Linked DNA regions of Homo sapiens: region 2 is linked to region 1. A link means that fine-mapping ties the variant in region 1 to the expression of a gene that starts in the linked region. Tissue or cell type: whole blood. Region 1 holds a variant in brackets; the other region holds the start of a gene. All regions are shown on one strand. Distances are between the middles of the regions. Region 1 overlaps ZNF264 (zinc finger protein 264). Region 2 holds the start of ZNF264 (zinc finger protein 264).

Region 1 (8,336 bases):
AAAATCAGATATGTACATAGCAAAATAATTATGCATTCCTGTACTTGAGGAATTTTTTTTTTTTTTTGAGATGCAGTTTCACTCTGTCGCCCAGGCTGGAGTGCAGTGGTGCGATCTCGGCTCACTGCAACCTCTGCCTCCCAGGTTCAACCAATTCTCCTGCCTCAGACTCCCAAGTAGCTGGGACTACAGGTGCACACCACCACGCCCGGCTAATTTTGGTATTTTTAGTAGAGACAGGGTTTCACCATTTTGGCCAGGCTGGTGTCGAACTCCTGACCACAGATGATCTACCCACCTCAGTCTCCCAAATTGCTGGGATTACAGGCGTGAGCCACTGTCCCTGGCCCTCGGGGACCTTTTAATTCCAACAATCAGTAACTCAAAAAGAACAACCACAACCACAAAAGTAAACAATATAGAAGGTTAGAGGGAGGTAGAGTAGTTGGGAAATGTCTAAAAGACAGTTATATCTGAGCATGGACTTGGAGGAATGGAGCATCTGAGGTAACAGGGTCTCATAGAGAGAGCACCTAAGACAAGGGAATGAAAGCAGGAGGATCCTGTCGTGTTTGGGGAAGTGCAACAAGGTTAGTATGGCTGCAGCTGAAGATAAACTGAATCACAGAGATAGATGGACGTGAATTCTGTAGTGTCCTGGAGGCCACAGTAAGGAGGTCATATTTTTATTTTTAGTTTTGAGACAAAGTCTCACTCTTCCACCCAGGCTGGAGTGCAGTGACACCATCATGGCCCACTACAGCCTCGAACTCCCAGGCTTAAGCAATTCTTCCACCTAAGCCTGCCAAGTAGCTGGGACCACAGGTGCATGCCACCACATCCAGCCAATTTTTAAAAATTTATTCTTTTTAAAGATGGGGTCTCACTATATTTCCCAGGCTGGTCTTGAACTCCTGGGCTCAAGCAGTCCTGCCTCAGCCTCCCAAAGTGCTGGGATTACAGGCGCGAGCCACTGCGCCTGGCCCAAGGATGTTGTAATAGGCTCCCTGTGTATTCTAGAATATACCTGGGATTGTATTTAGTCAGGCAGGGTGTGACAATCAGATACAGAAGTGATTATTATGGAGGAAGTTTATAGTAAGAGATCCCTAGAAACAGGAGGCAGAGCACACCATGCGGGTGGAAGCACCAGAGCAGGTTAGAAAGCAGCAGCAGAGGAGAAAGCAAGGCCCAGAGCCTGCGCTGTGTTTTCCACCAGAAAGGCAAGGCAAGGCAGGGCAGGGGCAGCATAAACAGAATAGGATTTGCTACTGTGAATAATGTTGGCAGGTTTTAGGACACAGGCACTGTCCGCAGCTATCTGATATCTGACCCTAGAATGAATTAGGGCCAACTTCAGGAAAACAACCTCTTGGGGTATCTTGCCTGGTAAGATTTTTATGTCGAAAACCATAAGTAGGTCCTGCTGCACGTTTGACCAGATAATTTATGCTAACAATATGATTCATGGTGGATGCTGGCTTTTGCATGCATGAGGCCCTGGGCCATGCTATATGTTTGTTTTCTGCAAGGGTTGTAGACTGGATATTTATGGTTATTCATGTGGGTTCTGCATTCCTACCTCAATGACCCTTAACGAAAACTCTAGACGTCAAGGCTTGGGGGAGCTTCCCTGGCTGGCAATACTGTGAATGTGTTGCACACAACTTTGCTGGGAGAATTCAGTGTGCCCTTGTGCAACTGCACTGGGAGGGAACACCTGCTAAGTTTGTGCCTGTGCTGGACACAGTGGCTTCCACCCGTAATCCCAGCACTTTGGGAGGCCAAGGCGGGTGGATCACTTGAAGTCAGGAGTTCCAGACTGGCCTGGCCAACATGGTGTAACCCCATCTCTGCTAAAAACACAAAAATCAGCCAGTGTGGTGGCACATGCCTGTAATCCCAGCTACTTGGGAGGCTGAGGCAGAGGATCACCTGAACCTGGGAGGCAGAGGTTGCAGTGAGCCGAGATTGTGCCATTGCACTCCAGCCTGGGTGACACAGCGAGACTCCATCTCAAAAAAAAAAAAAAAAAAAAAGAAAAAGAAAAAAGAAAAAAAATTGTGCCTGGTTTCTCACAGATTTCCTCCTATGTGCCTTTTACCTTTGGTGATCTTGGTCTCTATCCTTTTGTGGTAATAAACTGTAACCATGAGTACAACAGCTTTTCTGAGTTGTGTGTGACTTTCTTTTCTGAATTTTGACTTTCAGGCAAATCATCGAGCCTGAGGTGGTACTGGGGAGAGAATGTCACATAACCTAAAATGTCAAAAATGATTAAGGCTCATTCACCTAACAAATATCTGAATACATACTATTGACTACAAACTATGCACATGGAACATTAGGAGAAAATCTAGATCAAGGTCTGTGCTTTTTCGAAGCTGGAAATTGAGTTCAGGATACGGTCATTATTCAATAACCAAACAAATCAATAGATAATCATGAAAGAATGGGTATGAGCTAGCTGGGTGCTCTAGTGGGCTTCTGTGAAGGTGTGCTCTCTGGGACAAAATGAAGGATACACATTTGCTAACTGGGCAAAGCAGGTGGTGGAAGCTCCATCTCGAGTGGGAAAAGGAAAGGGAAGCATGGAGTGAAAGGAGAGCAGTAAGACTTGTATGAGATGAGGGTTGGGGAAATACGTTTTAGGGTATGTTCACTAAAGTAGGTAGCTGAACCCAAGAGTGCAGATGAGGCCTGGGGAGAGACCAGTAAGAGAAAAAAGAGGCCTGGGACAAAGCCTTAGAAATTTCAACACCGGTCAGGCACGGTGGCTCATGCCTGTAAGCCCAGCCCTTTAGGAGGCCAAGGCAGGCGGATCACCTGAGGTCAGGAGTTAAAGACCAGCCTGGCCAACATGGTGAAACCCCGTCTCTACAAAAATACAAAAATTAGCCGGGCATAATGGCAGATGCCTGTAATGCCAGCTACTCAGGGGGCAGAGGCGGGAGAATCACTTGAACCTGGGAGGCGGAGGATGCAGTGAGCCGAGATCATGCCATTGCACTTCAGCCCGGAGACAGAGCAAGACTCTGTCTCAAAGAGAAAAAAAAAAGAAAAAAAATTCAACACCAAATGGCTGGATACACGTGGATGCACCAACATGAAAGGGGAAAAGGAGTGAGAGGGTGCAGGGGAGAAAACCAGAAGCATAACCTTACAGAATCCAAGAGTACATCTGGAGAAAGGACTGGACAACAACAGTTTCAAGTCCTGTCCATAGCCCAGAAAAGACAAGGACTTAGGATTCATAAACAGGGAGCCACTGCTGACCTTCACCAGAGTGGTAAAAAGCGTGGTGCTGTAGCCGGGGAGTTTACAAGGAGAGGGGAGTTGCGGGACGTGGAGAGAAATAACACAAGGAAGAGGTAATGGGAGCGTGACATGAGCCCCAAGAGGCTCCTCC[A/T]TTAGAGGAAGAGAGTGAGGAAAAGACAAAGAACTCAAAGCTGGAGAAGCCCATACAGACATAGGGACATATGGAAGATCAGACTGGTGATGTCTGATACTCAAGAAGTGTGAGGATAATTCAGAAAGGGTTTGAAAATGACAAAAGAACATGCAGATGAAGACCAGGCACGGTGGCTCATGCCTGTAACCCCAGCACTTTGGGGGCCAGGGGAGGAGGACTGCTTGAGCCCAGGAGTTTGAAACCAGCCTGGGCAACACAGGGAGACCCCCATCTCTACAAAAAATTTAAAAATTAGCTGGGCATAGTGATGTGCACCTGTAGTCTCAGATACTTGGGAGGCTGAGCCTGCAGTGAGCCATGATCAGAAGACCCTATTTTTTTTTTGTTTTTTGTTTTTTGAGATGGAGTTTCACTCTTGTTGCCCAGGCTGGAGTGCAATGGCGCAATCTTGGTTCACCGCAGCCTCTACCTCCCGGGTTCAAGCATTTCTCCTGCCTCAGCCTCCCGAGTAGCTGGGATTACAGGCATGCACCACCACACTCAGCTAATTTTTTGTATTTTTAGTAGAGACGGGGTTTCTCCATGTTGGCAAGGCTGGTCTCAAACTCCTAATCTCAAGTGATCCACCTGCCTCGACCTCCCAAAGTGCTGGGATTACAGGTGTGAGCCACCGCGCCCAGCCTAAGATCCTATGTCAAACACACACACACACACACACACACACACAGCAAAAGAACATGCAGATGGAAAATAGGCTTGTAGGTGGCTGAAATGACATGTATGCCAAAAGTCAAGAAACTGAGATGAAAAAAGATTACTGTCACTGCTGAAGCCTAATTTCAAAGATCAAGAGACACACTTTGAACATATGTGAGTTCTTATACCTGAGAGCCAGGACATGGAACTAGGAAGAACAAGAGTACAGAGATGTTGAAAGACCACACAGCTACAAATGGCTAAAGGCTTAAGAAAGGAGGGAGGATGCCCATGAAAGGGAGGATAATCAAGAAAACACCATGTGGTCGGGCCGGGAGATGGCATTCTTCCTTCAAACTTGCAAACATTAAGAAGTGGCCCGGGGAGAATGATATCGGAAGGTGTTGTGTATTTGGGGCCCTCAATTAGTTGTGCTTGAGCTTTCTTGAGTGTCGGGCTATGAGAAGGGCATCAGGAGCTACCTTCCTAAAAACCCCAACCCCTCAGATGGTTGAGATTTTGCTAACACAATGGTCCCTCAAACGCCTGGGTCCTACCAATGCATCTGGAGAGCCCCTCTTTGGCATTGACCCCCTCCTCCTTCCATGGCTGTCCACTGAGTTCCAACCTAAGTATCACATTTGGCTTGGTGCACTGACACAGTTCTTTGGAAATGACATGGAAATGGCTGATTTGCTTTGCTAAATTCTTGAAATTCATGAGTGCTTTCAGGTAGGTTTTTTAAAATGTAGATTTTATTATTTAGCGTTGACGATGCCAACAGATCAGAAGACTGCCACTGATGAGTGTGTAACTCATAGTTCCCATGAAGAGGGGGTATATGAAGCCACACAGGGCTAAACAGGGAAGACTCACGGTTGGTTAGGAGACAGGAGGAAGGGGAAAGTGTGGGTAAAGCCTGTGTTATCATTTCTTCATTTTATTTTTAAAGAGCCAGGGTCTTGCTCTGTTGTCCAGGCTGAGGTGCAGTGGCTCAGTCACAGCTTACTGCAGCCTCAAACTCCCAGGCTCAAGTAACACTCCTATCTTAGCCTCCAAGTAGCTGCAACTAGAGGTGTGCACTATTGTGCCCCGTGAATTTTTTTTTTTTTTTTTTTTTTGTAGAGATGGGGTCTGGCTATGTTGCTCAAGCTGGTCTCAAACTCCTGGCCTCAAGTGAGCCTCCTGCCTTGGGCGCCCAGTGTTGGATTACAGGTGTGAGCTACCACACCCGGGCTGTATTGCCATTTTCGAGTGAAGAAATGGGTAAGGCAGAATAAACAAGTTATGAATTGGCTTAGCAATTCATAACTTAGCAAAAGCGGAGGAGACTTTTGCTACCTCTAAGAGGAGCAGTGTCTCCAGGATCAGCAAGGTCTCATTTGTCAAAATATCAGAATAAAAACACATGCTGAGCCAGGCAAAGTAGCTCATGCCTGTAATCCCAGCACTTTGGGAGGCTGAGGCAGGAGGACCACTTGATCTCAGGAGTTCGACACCAGACTGGGTTTCGAACACAGATATCTCATCTCTAGATTTAAAAAAAAAAAAAAAGAATCAGCTGGGCATGGTGGCAAGCACCTGTAATCCCAGCTACTCAGGAAGTTGAGGCGGGAGGATCACCTGAGCCCGAGAGATTGAGGCTGCAGTGAGCTATGAATGTGCCACTGCACTCCAGCCTGGGTGACAAAATTTCATTAAAGTCACCTGGCCAGTCAACACAAGGCCCATGGCTCGTAACCCTTACTCAAGAGGGTATTTCTCCTCCGCTATCTTGCCTGTCACATGCAAACCAGCCATTCCACAGCCCTACCCCTCAACTGTCTTTGGCAAGTTCTCACATGTGGAGCTACTATCCCCCTTCTTACTCAGTTACTTTTAGCTGGGAACTAGTACCCCAGTACTAGTTACTAGCTAAAAGCAGTCTATATACTCTGGAGCTCCCTGAAATTATTCAGACTAGCCAATTCATAACTTGTTTATTCTGCCTTGCCCATTTCTTCGCTCGAAAGTGGCAATACAGCCTGGGTGTGGTGGCTCACACCTGTAATCCAACACTGGGCGCCCAAGGCAGTGTTTCTTCTCCTTGGAGCAGTTCAGTTGAGACCACACAATTTTAAGATGTGTAACATGCCTGTGGCAAAGATTAAAAATCTTTGACCCTCAAAACCCAAGCACACTACTGAACATTGCAGAGGCACTCCAGCTTCCCACAATCGAGACAGGAAAGGCCATGCTGCGGTATGATAAAAAGGGTGCTGTGCAATTCCCACAAGCCAGATTCCCGTGGGTCTCCAACATCCCGTCTCTGTAGGGGACCTCTCGGCTGGAGTCAGCTGTTCAACTCCTCCAAAGTAAAACTCAGGCAAACATGATTCCAATAACATACTCTTTAATCACAAGTTATCTGCATTTAATAATGCAGAAATTATAAACCCATATTATTTAAATCTCTCCCCCACTGAAGCCATGAACTAGTTTCAAAAGCAGCAACAAAAGGATGACAAATTGTTTACATATATACTATAGAAATACACACTGAACTGGCAATAACATCTTTACAAAGGTGAACAAAGGGAGTACCTGCAAGTCGCACCACTTATAGCCATATATATATATTCATACACGTGTATATGTGTGTGTGTGTGTGTAGCTTGAAGTGGTCCATATGTACACACACATATACATATATATATATAGAGAGAGAGAGAGAGAGAACGCGAGCAGACTAGGTCCTTTCTTGAAAGACTCTCTCTGTACCTTTTCATCACTAAATTAAATCTCTAGGCTAGGGTGTTCATAAGTTCCACTGTAACTTAGGATTTGCTTTTTCCTCTTAACAAAACTGAGGCATTTTTTTTTTTTTTTTTTTTTTGAGACACAGTCTCACTCTGTCACCCAGGCTGGAGTGCAGTGGCATGATCTCGGCTCACTGCAACCTCTGCCTCCCAGGTTCAAGCGATTTTCCTGCCTCAGCCTCCCAAGTAGCTAGGACTAAATGCATGTACCACTACGCCCGGCTAATTTTTCATTTTTGTAGAGATGGGATTTCACCATGTTGGCTAGGCTGGTCTCAAACTCCTGACCTCAAGTGATCCACCCGCCTCAGCCTCCCAAAAGTGCTGGTATCACAGGCGTGAGCCACCTGAATTTATTACAATCATTACATAAGCCTTCACCACAAAGTCATGACCATTATTTTTTTGCTGAAAAAAAATTATTTGCTTAATGTTACGTAAATTTGACTTATATAGCATTTTAGTACCACTTAAGTCACTGTATAAAACAGCAGGTTGGAGACTGCTATCCTTTTGAGTTTGCAAGGTTCACCCTTGCTGGAGTGTGGGACCTTAGATTTTGGGAGGCTTACTACTGCTCCACCCACCCAAAACAGGAGTAGCTCACTGCCCTGTTTTTCGGTGCCTTTTTTTCCCCCCAGCTGAAAGGGGGATAACGTTTTCAGCTGAAAAGCTGAACCCCTGCTAACCTTCTGGAAGTCCAGAATTGTGGGATGTGCTAGAAAACATGCCCAATAAAAACCCTGGCACTGAGTCTCTAATAAGCTTCCCAGTGGACATATAGCATGTGTTGTCATAAGTACCAGATGGAACTTAAATAAGGCACATCCTGTGACTTCACTGAAACAAGACTCAGAAGATTGTGCCTGGTTTTCTCTGAATTTTGGCTTTTTCCCTTTACTATTTGCTTTGTATTTTTTTGCTGCAGTAAATCATAGCTGTTGAGTATGACAGAATGCTGAGACCTGAGTCTTCTCAGCAAATCGTCAAACCTGGGGGTGTTCTTGAGGATCCCAAGACAGTCATTCATAACAATTTCTAAAATCATGTACATCTGTCCAAAAAAGCCCAGGTAGGCCAGGTGCGGTGGCTCACGCCTGTAATCCCAGCACTTTGGGAGGCCGAGGCGGGTGGATCATGAAGTCAGGAGGTGGAGGCCATCCTGGCCAACATGGTGAAATCCCACTACTACTAAAAATACAAAAATTAGCTGGGTGTGGTCGCAGGCACCTGTAGTCCCAGCTACTCAGGAGGCTGAGGCAGGAGAATCGCTTGAACCCGGGAGGCAGAGGCTGCTGTGAGCCAAGATCACGCCACTGCACACCAGCATGGGTGACAGAGTGAGACTCCATCTCAAAACAAACAAACAAAAAAAGCCCAGGTAGATTATCTTTGAGGTCAAGGTATGTCATACATGGTACCACCTATAC
Region 2 (8,336 bases), 33 kb after region 1:
TCTTTCCCCAGCCACCCCTGTCATCGTGCAATGGGCCCATGAACAAAATGGTCATAGTGGCAGGGATGGAGGTTGCGCATGGGCTCAGCAACATGGACTTCCACTTACCAAGGCTGACCTGGCTACAGCCACTGCTGAGTGCCCAATCTGCCAGCAGCAGAGACCAACACTGAGCCCTCAATATGGAACCATCCCTCGGGGTGATCAGCCAGCTACCTGGCGGCAGGTTGATTATATTGGACCTCTTCCATCATGGAAAGGGCAGAGGTCTGTCCTCACTAGAATAGACACTTACTCTGGATATGGGTTTGCTTATCCTGCACGCAGTGCTTCTGCCAAGACTACCATTCACGGACTCATGGAATGCTTTATCCATCGTAATGGTATTCCACACAGCATTGCCTCTGACCAAGGCACTCACTTTATGGCTAAAGAAGTGTAGCAGTGGGCTCATGCTCACAGAATTCACTGATCTTACCATGTTCCCCATAGTCCTGAAGCAACTGGATTGACAGAATGGTGGAATGACCTTTTGTAGTCATAATTACTCCAACTAGTGACAATACTTTGCAGGGCTGGGGCAAAGTTCTCCAGTAGGCCATGTATGCTCTGAATTAGCATCCAATATATGGTACTGTTTCTCCCATAGCCAGGATTCATGGGTCCAGGAATCAAGGGGTGGAAGTGCAAATGGCACCACTCAACATCATCCCTAGTGATCAACTAGCAAAATTTTGCTTCCTATTCCCGCGACATTACATTCCGTTGGCCTAGAAGTCTTAGTTTCAGAGGGAGGAATGCTGCCACCAGGAGACACAACGATTCCATTAAACTGGAAGTTAAGATTGCCACCTGGACACTTTGGGCTCCTCCTACCTTTAAGTCAATAGCCTAAGAAGGGAGTTACAGTGTTGGCTGGGATGAATGACCCAGACTATCAAGATGAAATCAGTCTACTACTCCACAATGGAGGTAAGGAAGAGTATGCATGGAATACAGAAGATCCATTAGGGCATCTCTTAGTATTACCATGCCCTGTGATTAAGGTCAATGGGAAGCTACAACAGCCCAATCCAGGCAGGACTACAAATGGCCCAGACCCTTCAGGAATGAAGGTTTGGGTCACTCCACCAGGAAAAAAAACCATGACCTGCTGAGGTGCTTGCTGAAGGCAAAGTGAATACAGAATGTGCAGGAGAAGAAGGTAGTCATTAATACCAACTACGACCAAGTGACCAGTTGCAGAAATGAGGACTGTAATTGTTGTATTTCCTCCTTCTTTTATTAAAAACATGTTTGTGATGTATACACTTGTACTAAGAAAACATCTGCATTTTATTTCCTTTATCATGTGACGTAAGATTTACTGACTTCATATCAGCATTTAAGTATTGCTACCTTTATGTAATAGCACTTGGGTTGGGGATTAGTGTGTTTCGGTTGCATGAACGATACTTGTATTATGTTAAGCATAATTATGACCTTATTGTCTTTATTTGAAGATTATGTATGATCTCAGGAGATGTGTATGGGTTCAAGTTGACAAGGGATGGAGTTGTGATGGTTAACAGCTAGGTCCAGCTAGGTGCCTGGCCCATGTTGAAGGCTTCCCATCCTGTGTTAACACAGTCACCAGAAGTCCCTAGCTCCAAACACTTGAAACGGACACTTGACAGCTGTTACCTCAAAAACATCATTTCATTTCTCTGAGCCTTTATTTCTGGATCAATACAATAATACTTCCCACCAGTAACAGTCGTTAAATTTAAAGAGAAAGTATTCAATGCTCAGTGTGCTCTGGGATTTTTATTAATGTGTCAACTTGATTGGATTGAAGGATGCAACGTATTGATCCTGGGTGTGTCTGTAAAGGTGCTGCCAAAAGAGATCAACATTTGAGTCAGTGGGCTGGGAAAGGCAGACCCCCCCCTTAATCTGGGTGGGCACCATCTAATCAGCTGCCAGCGAGGCCAGCATATAAAGTAGGCAGAAATACATGAAAAGACTAGACTGGCCTAGACTACCAGCCTACATCTTTCTCCCATGCTGGATGCTTCCTGCCCTCGAACATTGGACACCAAGTTCTTCAGCTTTGGGACTTGGACTGGCTTCCTTGCTCCTCAGCTTGCAGACAGCCTACTGTGGGACCTTGTAATCATGAGTTATTACTACTTAATAAACTGTCCTTTTTATATATATCTATTCTATTAGTTCTGTCCCTTTAGAGAACCCTAATCCAGGTGGCCACTCTTGTCTTGAACTCACTAAGGCAGAAAAAGCCATAGAGAATAGACGTGACATGAGCAGACCCAGACAGAGAAGCCAGGACACCATCGTGGTGGTTCTCAGTTCCTACACCAGCCCCTCATGAGGCACAGCTGAAAATTACCTTTGAGTTTGCAAAACACCCCATTTCCTTTTACCACCTTCTCCTTTGGCTGGGAGCCAAAGAGTACCCTGTCTTTAGCCCAGAGATATAGGAGACCAGATAGGAAGAGGTTACTGTGGAAAATGACTAAAGCTGTGGGAAAGAGGCAAGGTAGATTCTAGAGGCCTTCTTGTGCAGCCAGGCCTGGAGTCAGAAGATGGAATGAAGGAAGTGGCAGGTCACCTGCATGGTGGAGGGGGAAGGAAGGCCTTACCCAGAGACACCAGGAGCCCACAGTTTTCCAGCATCACCTCCTGGTACAGGGTCCGCTGAGCTAGGTCCAGCTGCCCCCACTCCTCCTTGGTGAAAGTCACAGCCACATCATCAAAGGTCACAGACACCTGGAAAGTCAAACAGAATTAGTAGTATTGGCCTTTCAGCTGCTGAATGAGATCACAGACTGTGCTCCACTGGAAAAGGTGTACAGTGATGGCGGCCTGAATCACAGAGCACCTCCTGAGGGCCTAGCTCTGTGCTGGGCTCAAGAGGGAAGATAGATGCTTTTAACATAATACCAGAGTAAAGGAGAGAAGCCTCCTATTTAACGGCCGTTAGAGAATGACACAGGACAACGGAAACAACTTGTGGACTGTGAAATACAGAAGCTAAGGGCTCTAAAACGACAGGGAAATGGGGAAATGGTAATAATAGCAATAATGGTTACAACGGCAGTACCTGAGTCTCACTGGTCCAGCTAGGTGCCTGCCCCATGTTGAAGGCTTCACATCCTGTGTAAACACAGTGACTAGAAGTTCCTAGCTCCAAACACTTGAAACTGACACTTGACAGCTCTTACCTCAAAGACAGCATTTCATTTCTCTGAGCCTTGATTTCTGGATCAATACAATAACACTTCCCACCAGTAACAGTTGTTAAATTTAAAGTATTCAATGCTCAGTGTGCTCTGGGATTTTTATTAATCCTTTCACAGTCCCTGCAGTCAACACCATCATCACCTTCACAGTCAATGACTTCATGCTAAGGAAGCGCTATCAATTCACCCAGTCACACATCTCACCACCATAGATAGGATCTAAACATGGGGTTACTATGATTCACGGTCTAACAGTGTAACTCCAACACTCCCCCAACATCAAAGCAAATCTAATGCGATGAAGTTATAAGCATTTCCACTCATTTCTAACATTAAGTCTATTTCAATTAGCCCTGAAAAACGTATCTGTGGGCCGGGCATGGTGGCTCATGCATGTAATCCCAGCACTTTGGGAGGTCGAGGTGGGCGGATCGCTTGAGGCCAGGAGTTGAAGACCAGCCTGGCAAATATGGTGAAACCCAGTCTCTACTAAAATACAAAAATCAGTCAGGTGTGGTAGTGCATGCCTGTAATCCCAACTACTCGGCAGGCTGGGGCAGGAGAATTGCTTGAACCTGGGAGGCAGAGACTGCAGTGAGCTGAGAGTGCACCACTGTACTCCAGCCTGGGCGACAGAGTGAGACCCTGTCTCAAAACAAAAAAAAGTATGTGAACACGGGCACAAAAAGCTCAGCATTCCTCACTGACCCCACAGAGCGGCACTGGAAGGGCTGCATCTACTTGGGGAACGACAGGCTCCAGACCAGCTTCCCATGCCCTCTGGGATCTCCCTGGGTCTCCCAGATCCCCCAAGGAAATTCCACAATGAACCAACCATCGGCCTCTTTCCTTACTGGGTTCCGACAGAACTTGTCTCTGACGCCAGGATACTTTGGGGCCACGGAACACGAGCGGCCAAGGATAATGCAGGCTGTAGCGATGAGAGTAAGGGCATCTGACTGGCCACAATGTCTGCAGTAGTTGCGGATGGCTAGAACATCCAGGAAAAGACCACACACTGTTGCCCTCCACGTCTCAGCGGCCGCAGGAAAACCATGGCAACCTTACACACCCTCCTGAGCCTCCTTAAACATACAACATACCTTGTCTCTGCTCGCGCATTTGTCGGCTTGCTACTGCCCTGCCCTCCCCTTCCCCCCTCAGGCCCCCAATTCATGCTGGAATGAGACCTGGTCCACCAGAGAATGCTTGCAGGCCAAGGATGATGGGAGTCCCCAGAGGAAGCATCATTCACTCAACAACCTACGGAGCTCCTTCCAGTAGGCCCAACACTCCTTACGGCCAGGTATAAATTAAGTGGCAAACCAGCTCCACACACCAAAGCGAACGACGACTGCGAAGACAAATCCAGGGGATACCTGGGCTCCCACCCACTTCGGAAACCGCCTCAGCGCTGGCAAGGAAGCGGCAACCGCGAAGCCACCGTCCACTCACCTGGGCCCGGTCCGTCAGCACCGCTGCCGCCATCACGTCACCCCCTGGGCCGCAGAGCTGGGACAGAGGAGCCCCGGGCGGCCTGACGGACCCCACCTGTGCCCGACCCTGGCCGGTTGCCCGGGGCTTCCAGGCGCGCTCGGGGCCGCCGCCTCCTCGGTGGCAACGGCGTTCCAGACGCAGGGCCGCCGCCTCCTCGGTGGCAACCGCGTTCCAGACCCAGGGCGCCGCCCCTGGAGACCGCGGGGCTGAAGGGCGGGGGAGGAGAGACCGCAGCTTGACGGCGACCCAGGAACAAACCCACGGAAGGGGTCAGGCTCGTACAAAGGTGCGGCGGGGATTCCTATCCTACTCCCCTGCTCGGTCCTGACTAGGGACCTGCAAAGCGGCCCCGACCGGGGCCCTCAGTGGCTACAGACCTCTCCAGACAGAAGTGCAGAAGAAAATGGCGTCCGCAGCGAGCAACCCGGAAGTCCCGCCCCCACCGGCGTGAGCCGTCGGAAACGTCCCCGTCCTAGGCCGTCGTTGGCCCAGCTCCCGCCGTACGCATAATGCACAGCCTTCTAAGTAGTGTAGTTTTCCTCATGTGTTCAACAACGGGAGGAACGCTTCACGGCGCAAGTTTTCCTCCCAGGGAAAGGCACTCCAGGACCCGAGGAGACGCTCCAGACCCACCTCTTTACGGTGGGCACAACTCGAGGGGAAGGATGGAGGGAGGGAACCGAGGGGCAAGGGTTACATTGCATTCTTCTCTCGGGAAAATCGGAGCTCGGGAGACAGGGACTTTCCTTCAGGTCAGGGCACAGGCAAAGGCGCAGAACTGGGTCCTCAGCTCGCCTGGCGACTGACCCCCTTTCACATCCCTCCTCCCCGGATCATCATCTTGGAAGACACAAAAAAGCCGAATGATCATCTGGAAGCCCTGCCCCGACACGTTGTGTGCGCAAACTGCCCTCTTTTGAGCCTTCTTTGGACCAGCACAGCCTCTACGTGATGCAGGGAGTCATGTATTTGGCCCAGACCACACAAAAAGTGGATTTGCCCACTTCTGAGGTGGGGAGGCTGCAAGTGGAGGAGGTTCGGAGGCTCAGGATGGTTAGTTTGAAATGTCTACAGAACCACAAAGTATCTCTGTCACAGGCAATTCGACTTACGACTGAATGTTGGAAGAAGGTTTGAGCATGAATATATGAATTTAGGAGTTACCTTACACTGTTATTTCAAGTCATGATATTGAGTGAGACCATCAAGGCAATGCATGTAGATGGAGAAGAAAATACACAGAGCATGAGCCGGGGACCAAGTCTACATCATTAAATGGTTGATGACAATATTACCAGAAAGGCCAGGTCCTTGCATCTAGATCCTGCTGCTTGCTGCACAGAAGGCCAGTCAGCAAGACAATGAGTATTGTCAGGGATGAAGGCTTTATTCGGTGCTGCAGCTGAGGAAAATGGGAGATCAATCTCAAATCTCTTTCCTCAACTGACTAAAACTAGGGGTTTATACATCAGGGAAGAAGTGTAACTATGTTTGAGAAAACAGGAATTAGGAAGGGGTAAGGAAGAGGAATGGGTCAACAGGCAGCAGATGGTCAGTTAGGCAATCATCATGGGTAAGGGGTATAGCATCTCGTTTTTCCAGATGTGGTAATCCAGTAAGTTTCAGTTTCTTTATACTATCTGGGAGGCCTGATGCTTGGTTTCCTGAGAAAGGAAATCAGATAAGACAAATAAAAGTGTCTCGAGTTTTAGGAAGGGGAGGCTCAATGTCTATAATGTGTTGATTCAAAAGAAACCATAAATATCAGTTCTATGGGACACTGGAGCTGGTTTCAGTTCCCTGTTTCTATTTATCAATTCCTCAATCATGGGGAATCTGGACGTGATCTTTCTGGCTGCTTTATGCTGAGGAGGGGTATTGTGGGTGGCTGCATACCATAGATGACCACGTGGCCACTCAGATTAACTCAAAGGTTAATCTAACGCTATAGTTTTCTTTCTTTCTTTCTTTTTTTTTTTTGAGACAGAGTTTTGTTCTTTCACCTAGGCTGGAGTGCAGTGGCACGATCTCCGCTCACTGCAACCTCTGCCTCCTAGGTTCAAGCGATCCTCCTGCCTCAGCTTCCCGAGTAGCTGGGATTACAGGTGCCCACCACCATGCCTGGCTAATTTTTGTATTTTTAGTAGAGACGGGGTTTCACCATGTTGGCCAGGCTGGTCTCAAACTCCTGACCTCATGATCCGCCCACCTCAGCCTCCCAAAGTTGAGCCACTGCACCTGGCAGCACTATAGTTTTCTTTGGAAACAGTTTTTCTCTCTCTAGTCCCTGACTTCCATCAAAAGCAAATCACAGCAGGAACAACTTACCTGCAAAACAAGCTTCAGTCCCACCATACTTATCCAAACTACAGCAAGAATCACTGTTTATACAATTCCTCCTAAATTGGCTTTGCTGGAACCCCTCATAAGGAATCTCTCAGACTCAACACCCAAAGACCTCTTAAGCCCAGCCAAAGATCTGTCTGCACCTGTACATACCTGCATGAATTGGGTGAAACCCGTTTTTCTTGAGGCCCCAGAACATCTTGAGGTTCCTAGGCCTATCAGAAAATGACACTGTATTTACTACAGGCCAGGAACCCCACAAAGGAACTGTGTGCACAAGATATGAGGCCAGTCCTTCCAAGGGCTCCCATCAGCTCCATAAAGTCAGTCTTTTTTTTTTTTTTTTTTTTTTTTTTTGAGACACAGTCTTGCTCTGCCGCCCAGGCTGGAGTGCAGTGGCGTGATGTCAGCTCACTGCAAGCTCTGCCTTCTGGGTTCGCGCCATTCTCCTGCCTCAGCCTCCTGAGTAGCTGGGACTACAGGCGCCTGCCACCACACCCGGCTAATTTTTTATATTTTTAGTAGAGATGGGGTTTCACCATGTTAGCCAGGATGGTCTCGATCTCCTGACCTCGTGATCCACCCGCCTTGGCCTCCCAAAGTGCTGGGATTACAGTCATGATCCACCACGCCTGGCCCATAAAGTCAGTCTTAATTCCTCAAAGCAGTCTCGCATAGTTAAAAATATGCCATTCCTGTCAAAGCCTTGGGAAAAGACCCAGTGCCTACAATTGTGTTATAAAATAATATGGATTTTAAAAAATAGAGATAGGGTCTTGCTTGTTTACCCAGACTGGAGTGTAGTGGCACGATCATAGCTCACTACAGCCTCAAACTCCTGGGCTCAAGCGATCCTCCTGCCTCAGCCTCCCAAGTAGCTAGAAAACAGATTCTTATTGAACATATGCTACACCTAGCTAGAAAACAGATTCTTATTGAACATATGCAAACAACCACATTGCCGTGAATTAAGAATATTCACAAATAGTTTCTGAATTCTGGAGAAATCAGGCAGAGAGAGAAATAGCCCTCAAATTTTGTTTACAAATGTATATTCAATTGTTAAAGGCTATAAATAGCTGGAAAGAAAAAAGTTTCATAGAGACAGAAAGTAGATTTACAAAAAAAGTTCTCCTGACTCAAAAACAAAACAAAAAGAATCAGCAATGTTTCAAACACACACAAAAAATAATAAAATAAATTCAGTACTTGAAATAAATCTCTGTGTTTGTGTGTGTGTGTTCCATTTCT

Evidence for each region. PIP is the estimated chance that this variant, and not a neighbour inherited with it, causes the effect.
Region 2: ZNF264 starts here. The variant in region 1 is fine-mapped to the expression of ZNF264 in whole blood (TOPMed, PIP above 0.99).

Annotation. Positions count from the first base shown.
Region 1 is chr19:57,220,994-57,229,329 of GRCh38, reverse strand. It overlaps ZNF264 (zinc finger protein 264), which reads right to left. Exons shown (of 4, transcript NM_003417.5): 4 at 6,484-8,336. Among named protein-coding and RNA genes, the nearest start is that of AURKC, 5.9 kb to the left of the region's middle. The variant A/T (reference allele first, on the strand shown) is at 3,410.
Region 2 is chr19:57,188,308-57,196,643 of GRCh38, reverse strand. ZNF264 (zinc finger protein 264) reads right to left here and starts at 5,144. Exons shown (of 4, transcript NM_003417.5): 1 at 4,698-5,144; 2 at 2,643-2,769. The coding sequence starts at 4,730. RefSeq lists a silencer at 4,629-4,898 and enhancers at 5,069-5,128, 5,139-5,228, 5,249-5,308.